Linked DNA regions of Homo sapiens. The protein of the gene in region 1 purifies or fractionates together with the protein of each later gene. This does not show direct contact. Each region holds a gene or a part of one and is shown in the gene's direction. Other genes may lie near its edges.

Region 1 (3,916 bases):
CAAAGTGCTGGGATTACAGGGGTGAGCCACCATGCCCAGCCAATAGGTGGGTTATTTTTAATCCTTTTATACAAATCCTTTCATACAAAGGATTTCACATTTCACTGAGGTCCAGTAACTGGACCCCCTAGTCTGGAGCTACTGTTTTGGTGTCCATTACCAGGGATGCCCCTTGTACCAGGCTGTGTGCGCCCCCCACACTGCTGCAGGGTGGAGCGCTGCTCTCTAAGCCTACTACGCCTGAGCTTTTGGCCCACACTGACTGCACCGCTGCATACATTATTTCACCATTCCCAACAGCACTCACTGAATCTATGCTCTGGGCTGAGCGGGGGATTACACAGAAGCAGAAGGAAGGCGCTGTAGAGATTAGAGCTGCCTAATGTCCCAATCTTTTCTCCTAGACATATTGGTTTGTATTTCCACCCACTTGAACTCATGCATAACTGAGTGACTTTTTTGGCCAATGAAATGTGAACAGAAGTGATGTGGGTCGCTTCTGGGCAGAAACATATAGATCCAGTATGTGGCTCACCACATTTTTGTACCCTGCCTCTGTGACTGTGGAAGCCTGGATCAAGAAGCTGCCTCTGCCAGTCTAGGTCTAGGTCTAAGTCTAGGTCTTTCAGTAACTACCATGACCCCATTTAGATCAGGATGGTCAGTCAGCATAAGCAAGAACTTTTGTATTGTTTTTGTTTTTTGAGATGGAGTCTCCCTCTGTCGCCCAGGCTGGGGTGCAGTGGTGCAATCTCAGCTCATGGCAACCTCCACCCCCCAGGTTCAAGTGATTCTCTGGCCTCAGCCTCCCAAGTAGCTGGGATCACAGGTATGTGCCACCACGCTTGGCTACTTTTTGTTTTTTTGGTACAGATGAGGGTTTTGCCATGTTGGCCAGACTGATCTCGAACTCCTGACCTCAGGTGATCCTCTCGCTTTGGCCTCCCAAAGCACTGAGATTACAGGCGTGAGCCACCGCAGCTGGCCAGAACTTTTGTATTTTAAAGCTTATGCCAACTGATAGTCTTTTCTCAAGGAGCTCACCAGCTAGTGGAGAGGCAATGTGGAACCACAGTCTAGAGATGTAAAGTACTGCACATGGCCAAGTAAGTGTTCAAGGGCTTAAATAAAATATGATAATCTCCTCATCCAATCTCTCTCCTATTGCTATCTTTCAGTCTGGTAGCATTAGCCAAAGCTCTCACATGTCTTAGGTGGGCTATCTCTAAATGGGTTAGTCTGCAACACTGGAATAATATGACATAAACATTTTCTTTTGTGTATGTGAGCATACGGCTTGAAATAAACTCTAATATTTGCAGCAGAGGAAATACCTTTCTCCACATCTCATACGTGTTCATTTTCTTGTTGAACAATTTCAAAATAAGAAACTTCCATAGCTGGTAATAATATCGATAGAACAGGAAAATATAGTTTAGCTGGATATTTTTGTTTTTACTTTTTAGAAGCCATACTAATAAAGGAGTATATTAAAGGAGCTTATCGTAAGCCTATCTTCTTACATAAATTTATCTCATAGATTTTTTTTTCTGCTTTCCTTCCTTCACCTCATCATAATATGGAATTATTTTCTCATTTCCCATCATAGTCATCATAATAATGTCCTACCCTATTGGACTCTGAACTATTTTCCACTATTCATTTTTTATTAGCGTTAAATTTTAACCAGAAGATTGGGATAAAAGGCAACATAGTACCATGCAAGCATAGCCACTTTGACAACGTTTCTGAGCCAGGGGTGACCATGACCTGCTGCGAAGGATGGACATCCTGCAATGGATTCAGCCTGCTGGTTCTACTGCTGTTAGGAGTAGTTCTCAATGCGATACCTCTAATTGTCAGCTTAGTTGAGGAAGACCAATTTTCTCAAAACCCCATCTCTTGCTTTGAGTGGTGGTTCCCAGGAATTATAGGAGCAGGTCTGATGGTGAGTGATATTTATTTGACTTGATGTGAAGAAGGGCCTGCCTATTTCACCAAAATCCTAAAAGCTGTCTTCCAGTCTTGCAGTTAACTATGTCTTGGCTTATGATAAAATTTGGAGCAGTAGTATGGCATTAATTTATATTGGTCATCAGTGAAGAATGGTAATTTAAATAAAGTACACTATGTGGTATAGGATAGAGAGCTGGGCAAAAAAATAAATTAATTAGTAGAAGTTGGCTGGGTTATTATCTCTCACATTTCTGTACAGGTAGGGCTGCTCTTTCAAGCTTTGTGGTTAGAGTTAGGGACCTTCTGAATTAATTCCTTCAACTTTCCATTGCTCCATACCAGTCTCTAAGTATTTACAGAAAATGCAATAGGAGTGACAGGTTGCTTAATAGGGATGAGTAGAAACATTCCCATGTATGATGACTAGCCTGGGTGATGGTAATTACGAGGCATGAATGCTGCATTGCCTGTACCTGAAGGGAGTTGGGCTAAGAGACATGGACTTAAAATCCTGGGTCTCTGGCCTCAAGGAATTTTTGACTCAGCTATTATATAGATCCTAGGACATCGAGCTTGTTGAATAGTTTGGTGATTGTTACTAGGTCTACCTCTGTTGAAATCTGCAGCAGAGCAGTGCAGGATGGAACTCCTAAATATAACTGACATGAATCACCCGAGGCACTTGCAATAGTTAGATTTACGGATTTTCTCCTGAGAATTCTGGGTGCAGTAGGCCTGGGTAGGACGCATTTGTATAGGGAAAACGGCTTTCAAATATGGCAGAATACCTCAGCTATGGTTCTGCCTCCCATATACCACTGCAAGCAAATCATTTATCCTATGGTTTTGTTTCCATATGTGTAAAATGGGGATGTGGATGTTGAAGTTGATAATTCAGCATCCAAGAGGCTTGTTTTTGTTTGTTATGCCACTAGGGGGTTTAGTTAGTGCCAAATAAATGAATGTGTGTGTGTGCCTGTGTGTGTGTGTGTGTAAGACAGAGAGAGAGAGAGAGAGTAAGCTGTAAGGACTGATATTATCAGTGTTTTAGAGATAATAAAACACGGAGGTGACTTTTTTTTAACTTTTTTTTTTAAGTTTTCAGTTCAGAGGTACATGTGCAGGTTTGTTACATAGGTAAACGTGTATCTTGGGGGCTGGTTGTACAGATTATTTCGTCATCCAGATATTAAGCCTACTACCCATTATTTATTTTGCCTGATCCTCTCCCTCCTCCCACCCTCCACTCTCCACCCTCCAACAGGCACCAGTGTGTGTTGTTCCCTTTTATGTGCTCATGTGTTCTCATCATTTACCTCCCGCTTACAAGTGAGAACATGCGGTTTTTGGTTTTCTGTTCATGCGTTAGTTTAAGGATAATGGCCTCCAGCTCCATCCATGTCCCTGCAAAGGTCATGATCTCATTCCTTTTTTATGGCTGTGGAGGTGATTTTTAAAGAAATTCAGGACATAGTTTTCTACTTGAATCACTGATTCTGAATTATGATCAGTTACTGCTGCTGGTATTATCCCCAGATTTACAAAAACACTCTTCCTTTACCATCACAAAGAATCTGTTCCTCTGCTTTAGGTAGAAAGATCTAATTAAAGAAAAAGCTTTTGGAAAGTTTTGGGCTATTTCTTCACACTGCCATGAATGCTCTCTTCCAGGCTGAGAGACAGAAAACACATTGCAACTCAACAGCATGAAGCAACTGTACATCCGTGTGTCTGTTTTCTTCCCTGTAGAAGGCTTCTCTCTGCTTGAGTAGTAGAAGCCTCTTTTGCATTTGCTTACACCAGAAGCCAGGAGCAGCTGGCTGAGCATGACTTAACGATAGCAATTTCCATGAAGCTCCTAGAAGTTCCTGAGTTAAGACAATCCACTTAGAATAACACATGCAGCTTTAGATATAAATTGGCTCTGCCACAAATCCCATGAGATTAAAAAAAATGTATT
Region 2 (3,916 bases), on another chromosome or scaffold:
TCACCATGTTGGCCAGGCTGGTCTTGAACTCCCGACCTCAGATGATCTGCCTGCCTTGGCCTCCCAAAGTGCTTGGATTACAGGCATGAGCTACTGTGCCTGGCCAGTAGGCACTCTTTATGTATTGCAGGTGGTACTGAGTAGGCACTTTTTATGTAGCGCAGGCAAGAGTAGGAACTCTTCATGTAGAGCAAGCAGCACTCAGTAGGCACCCTTTATGTACAGAAGGCAGCCCACAGTAGGTACACTTTATGGAGCACAGGCAACACTCGAGCAGGCAGCACTCAATAGACCCTCTTTATGTAGATCAGGAAACACTCAGTAGGAAGTCACCATATAGAGCAGGTGGTATCAGTAGGCACTGTTTATGTAGAGCACTTGGCACTCAGTAGGCATGTGTTATGTAGACAGCAACTGGTGCTCAGTGGGCACTCTTCATATACAGGGGGTGGCACTCAATAGGCACTCACTATGTAGAGCAGGTGGCACACAGTAGGCACTCTATGAGGAATATCAGGAACTGAGTATACAGGGTTAATGTAGAGCACCTGGCACACAGTAGGCACACTTTATGGAAAGCACTTGGCACAGAGTAGACAGGATTTAGCACCTGGCACACAGTAGCTGCCCTTCATTTAGAGTATTGGCACACAGTAGAAGTACTTTCCATGCAGCCTTTGTGCAGAGTAGAGACTGGCACACAGCAGCTCAAGTGCTAGTTGCCACCCTTTCCCTTCACTCCTTTTTGGGGCTCCCTCCTCTTAGGAGCCCTCATTGTCCCCCGCTAAGGCCCTCATCGAACATCCCATTTCCCAGATGGGAAGACTGCACCCAGGAGGGGCAGTACTGACCAAAGTCAGAGCAAGGATGAGGCAGAATGAGGACTCCATTCATGGTTCCCTGGCTCTGCCCTTCCCCTGCCTGGACCCCATCCGTTCCCTCTCATCCTAACCCTCCACGTCCCCGCTCTGTCCTCCTATACTGAGTCCGGCCTCCAGATTTGCTTTTCCAGCTGAGCTCTTAATCTCCAGAATCTGACCCAGGTAATCCTCAGTGGGGCTGGATTCTTTGTTCCCGTTCCTAGCAGTCAGGTCTCCAACAGGGCCCTGGACTGCCTGGAGGCAAGACTTGAACTCCATCCAGCAGCAGGGGGATAGAGGCTTGTCTCTTCCAGGTTGCCTGATTCAGCATCCAGAAGTGGTACACGGTGTCCTACCGGCCCAGGGTTAGAGAGGAGCACAGGAGATGATCTGGAACAAGGCTTGGCCTGGCCTGGCTCGCTTGACACCTGAACTCTCAAGTTCATGCTTTTATCTGCCACACACTCAGTAGGTGCTCTTTAAGAGCAGGTGTCACACAGTGGAAACTCTATCTGACCCCTCTCGGCTTACTCTCCACCTTATGTGGGAGGTGCTGAGACCTGAGGATCCAGTGCCTGTGCTGTGTCACCCTGAGCTGGTTCCTCTGCATCCAGCTGGTCTCCCACACCCAGGTTTTGGCCAGCTGCCCAGACATGGGAGCGGCACCCAGGCTGTGGGGATTGGCTGGCCCAGCCCAGCCCAGCCTAGCCTCCCACAGCCTTCCCTACATCAGGGGCCAGGGGAAAAAACCTCCCAGAAGAAGGGGAGAGGAGGTTGTGTGGGACAAGGTGCTCCTGACAGAAGGTGCCAGGGTGGGGGTGGTGGGCCTGGGGCATCCTAGCCTGTGATGGAGATGGGCACTGGGCAAGGGATTGGGCGCACACATAGGGGAGCCCCAGCCTTCCCACATTCTCCATTGCTGCCCAAGGCCCAGGCAGCTCCTGGTTGCTGGCTTGGAGGATGAGTGGTTTTCTAACTGAAACCAAGCCCCTGGCAACGTCCTAATGATTCAGGCTGGGCCTTTCTGGACTTTAATCAGTTTCTCTGTCTTTCTCAATCTAAGTGCTTACCGGGTAACTGGAGGCCACTTGGTTGCTGGTTTTGGCTGGGCCTTTCTGGACTTTACCCCTCAGCCCCTGTTTATCCATCCCTGTTTACTCTTACTGTTCTATCTCCAGCACTGCCCGTCTCTGCCTCTCTCCACTGTCCCTGGAGCTCCCTGGGCCCTTCCCTGGGCCTCAGGACCTCACTCACCACCCCATCTGCCCTGCAGGATGCCACAGCTGAGCCTGTCCTCGCTGGGCCTTTGGCCAATGGCAGCATCCCCGTGGCTGCTCCTGCTGCTGGTTGGGGCCTCCTGGCTCCTGGCCCGCATCCTGGCCTGGACCTATACCTTCTATGACAACTGCTGCCGCCTCCGGTGTTTCCCGCAACCCCCGAAACGGAATTGGTTCTTGGGTCACCTGGGCCTGGTGAGTGTGGCAGCAGGACGGGTCTGGGGTCTCAGGGTGGATGGACTTCCTGAGGGGTAAGAATGAGGCTCAGGTGAGAGGGGGTGGGCTGGGGTCTGGGGTGGCAGAGAAGCAGGGGAGGCGTCTTACTCATTCCTCTGCTTACTCATTTCTGTGAGGTGCCAACCCAAGCCCTTCTCACCTCCCTGTTCTCCCACTCTTGGCCTGTGTTGAATCCTTTTCCTGCCTGTCTTTCCACATTAATGCACCTCTGCGGGGCTCTTGGGCAGGGGGTTGGGTGCACAGAAAGGTGAACCCCTGGCGTTCCCACATTCTCCATTGCTGGACTCGAGGCCTCCTGTACCCACTGTTCAGGGTCCTCTCCCTACCTGGCCTATTTCCTCTTATGAGGGTATAGGTGGGCCAGAGGAGAGGTGTGGGCTGTCTCTCACCTCCACCACATCCGGAGGCACCTTCCTCTTATCTTGTTCCTCCCCAGTAAGATGTCCCAATGGGGTCCTGTTGCCAAACCCACATAAAAGTTGGCCACTCACTTCCCCTTTCAGAAGCCTTCCCTGACCTTTCTCCTCCCCCAGACCTTGCCCTCTGACTTAGACCTGCTCTCCCCTTTGCGGAACGTGGTCTCAATCTGCTCATTGCAAATGGCAGGATTGATGGGTGTGTCCACAGGTGAAGTGGGAGGGTGCACAGGATGCACTAGCACAGAGCCTGGTGCAGAAGCTTCTCCCAGGTGGGAGCCACTGTCATGATGGACAGTTAGAGTCACCTCTGCTCCCCTAGTGACTGCTGAGAAGGGAAGGTCCCCTGTGTGCAGAACCTTCTCCATGGGAGGAACTGGAACCTGTGTGGCTGGTGGAGGAACCAGCCAGGGCATGAAGGGATGTGGGGACCAGCCTTAGGGACATGTCCTGAGTCCACACTGCTCCCCACAAACCTCCCCTGTGAGGACCTCCTCATATGCCCACCTCTGGGCTGAAATGACTCCCAGAACAAGGAAATTTTTCCTCTCAAGCTAAGTGGGCCTCTGTGAGTGGACAGTGTGTCTTTTCCTTCTGCCTTGGGATGCGCTCTTGGGACTTGGGGGTGGCCCCAAGAGAGATAGAGCAGGAGGAATGTAGACAGATAGATAGGTAATAGGATAGATGGATGGATGGATGCACAGATAGGGTGAATAGATGGCTGGCTGGCTGGATAAGTAGGTGGGTAGATAGACAGATAGATAGATAGATAACAGGATAGATGGATGGATGGACAGATGGATGCATGGATAAGATGGATGGATGGATGGATGGATGGATGGATGGATGGATAATACATACATAAAGTAGTAGATAAGATGGATACATTAGGTGGATAGATAGGTAGAGTGGATATGTAGGATGGATAGATTAGATGGATGGATAGATAGCTAGATGATTGATAGATAATAGGATAAATGGATGAGTGGATGAATGTACAGATAAGATGGATGGATGGATGGATGGATGGGCAGATAGATATATAGATAGAAAAGTTAGATAGGATGAATAGATTAGATAGATAAATGAATAGATAGATAGGTAGGTAGATAGATAATAGGCTAGA

What was found.
Region 2: the proteins of TM4SF20 (region 1) and CYP4F3 purify together in Homo sapiens (affinity purification with mass spectrometry; one large-scale study listed by BioGRID and IntAct). This does not show direct contact.

Annotation. Positions count from the first base shown.
Region 1 is NC_000002.12:227,377,118-227,381,033, reverse strand, and holds the start of TM4SF20 (transmembrane 4 L6 family member 20), read left to right. Parts: upstream 1-1,727; 5' UTR 1,728-1,765; coding exon 1,766-1,948; intron 1,949-3,916. UniProt on the Homo sapiens protein: Polytopic transmembrane protein that inhibits regulated intramembrane proteolysis (RIP) of CREB3L1, inhibiting its activation and the induction of collagen synthesis.
Region 2 is NC_000019.10:15,639,282-15,643,197, forward strand, and holds the start of CYP4F3 (cytochrome P450 4F3), read left to right. Parts: upstream 1-1,615; 5' UTR 1,616-1,664; intron 1,665-2,030; exon of another isoform or gene 2,031-2,133; 5' UTR 2,134-2,134; coding exon 2,135-2,332; intron 2,333-3,916. UniProt on the Homo sapiens protein: A cytochrome P450 monooxygenase involved in the metabolism of various endogenous substrates, including fatty acids and their oxygenated derivatives (oxylipins).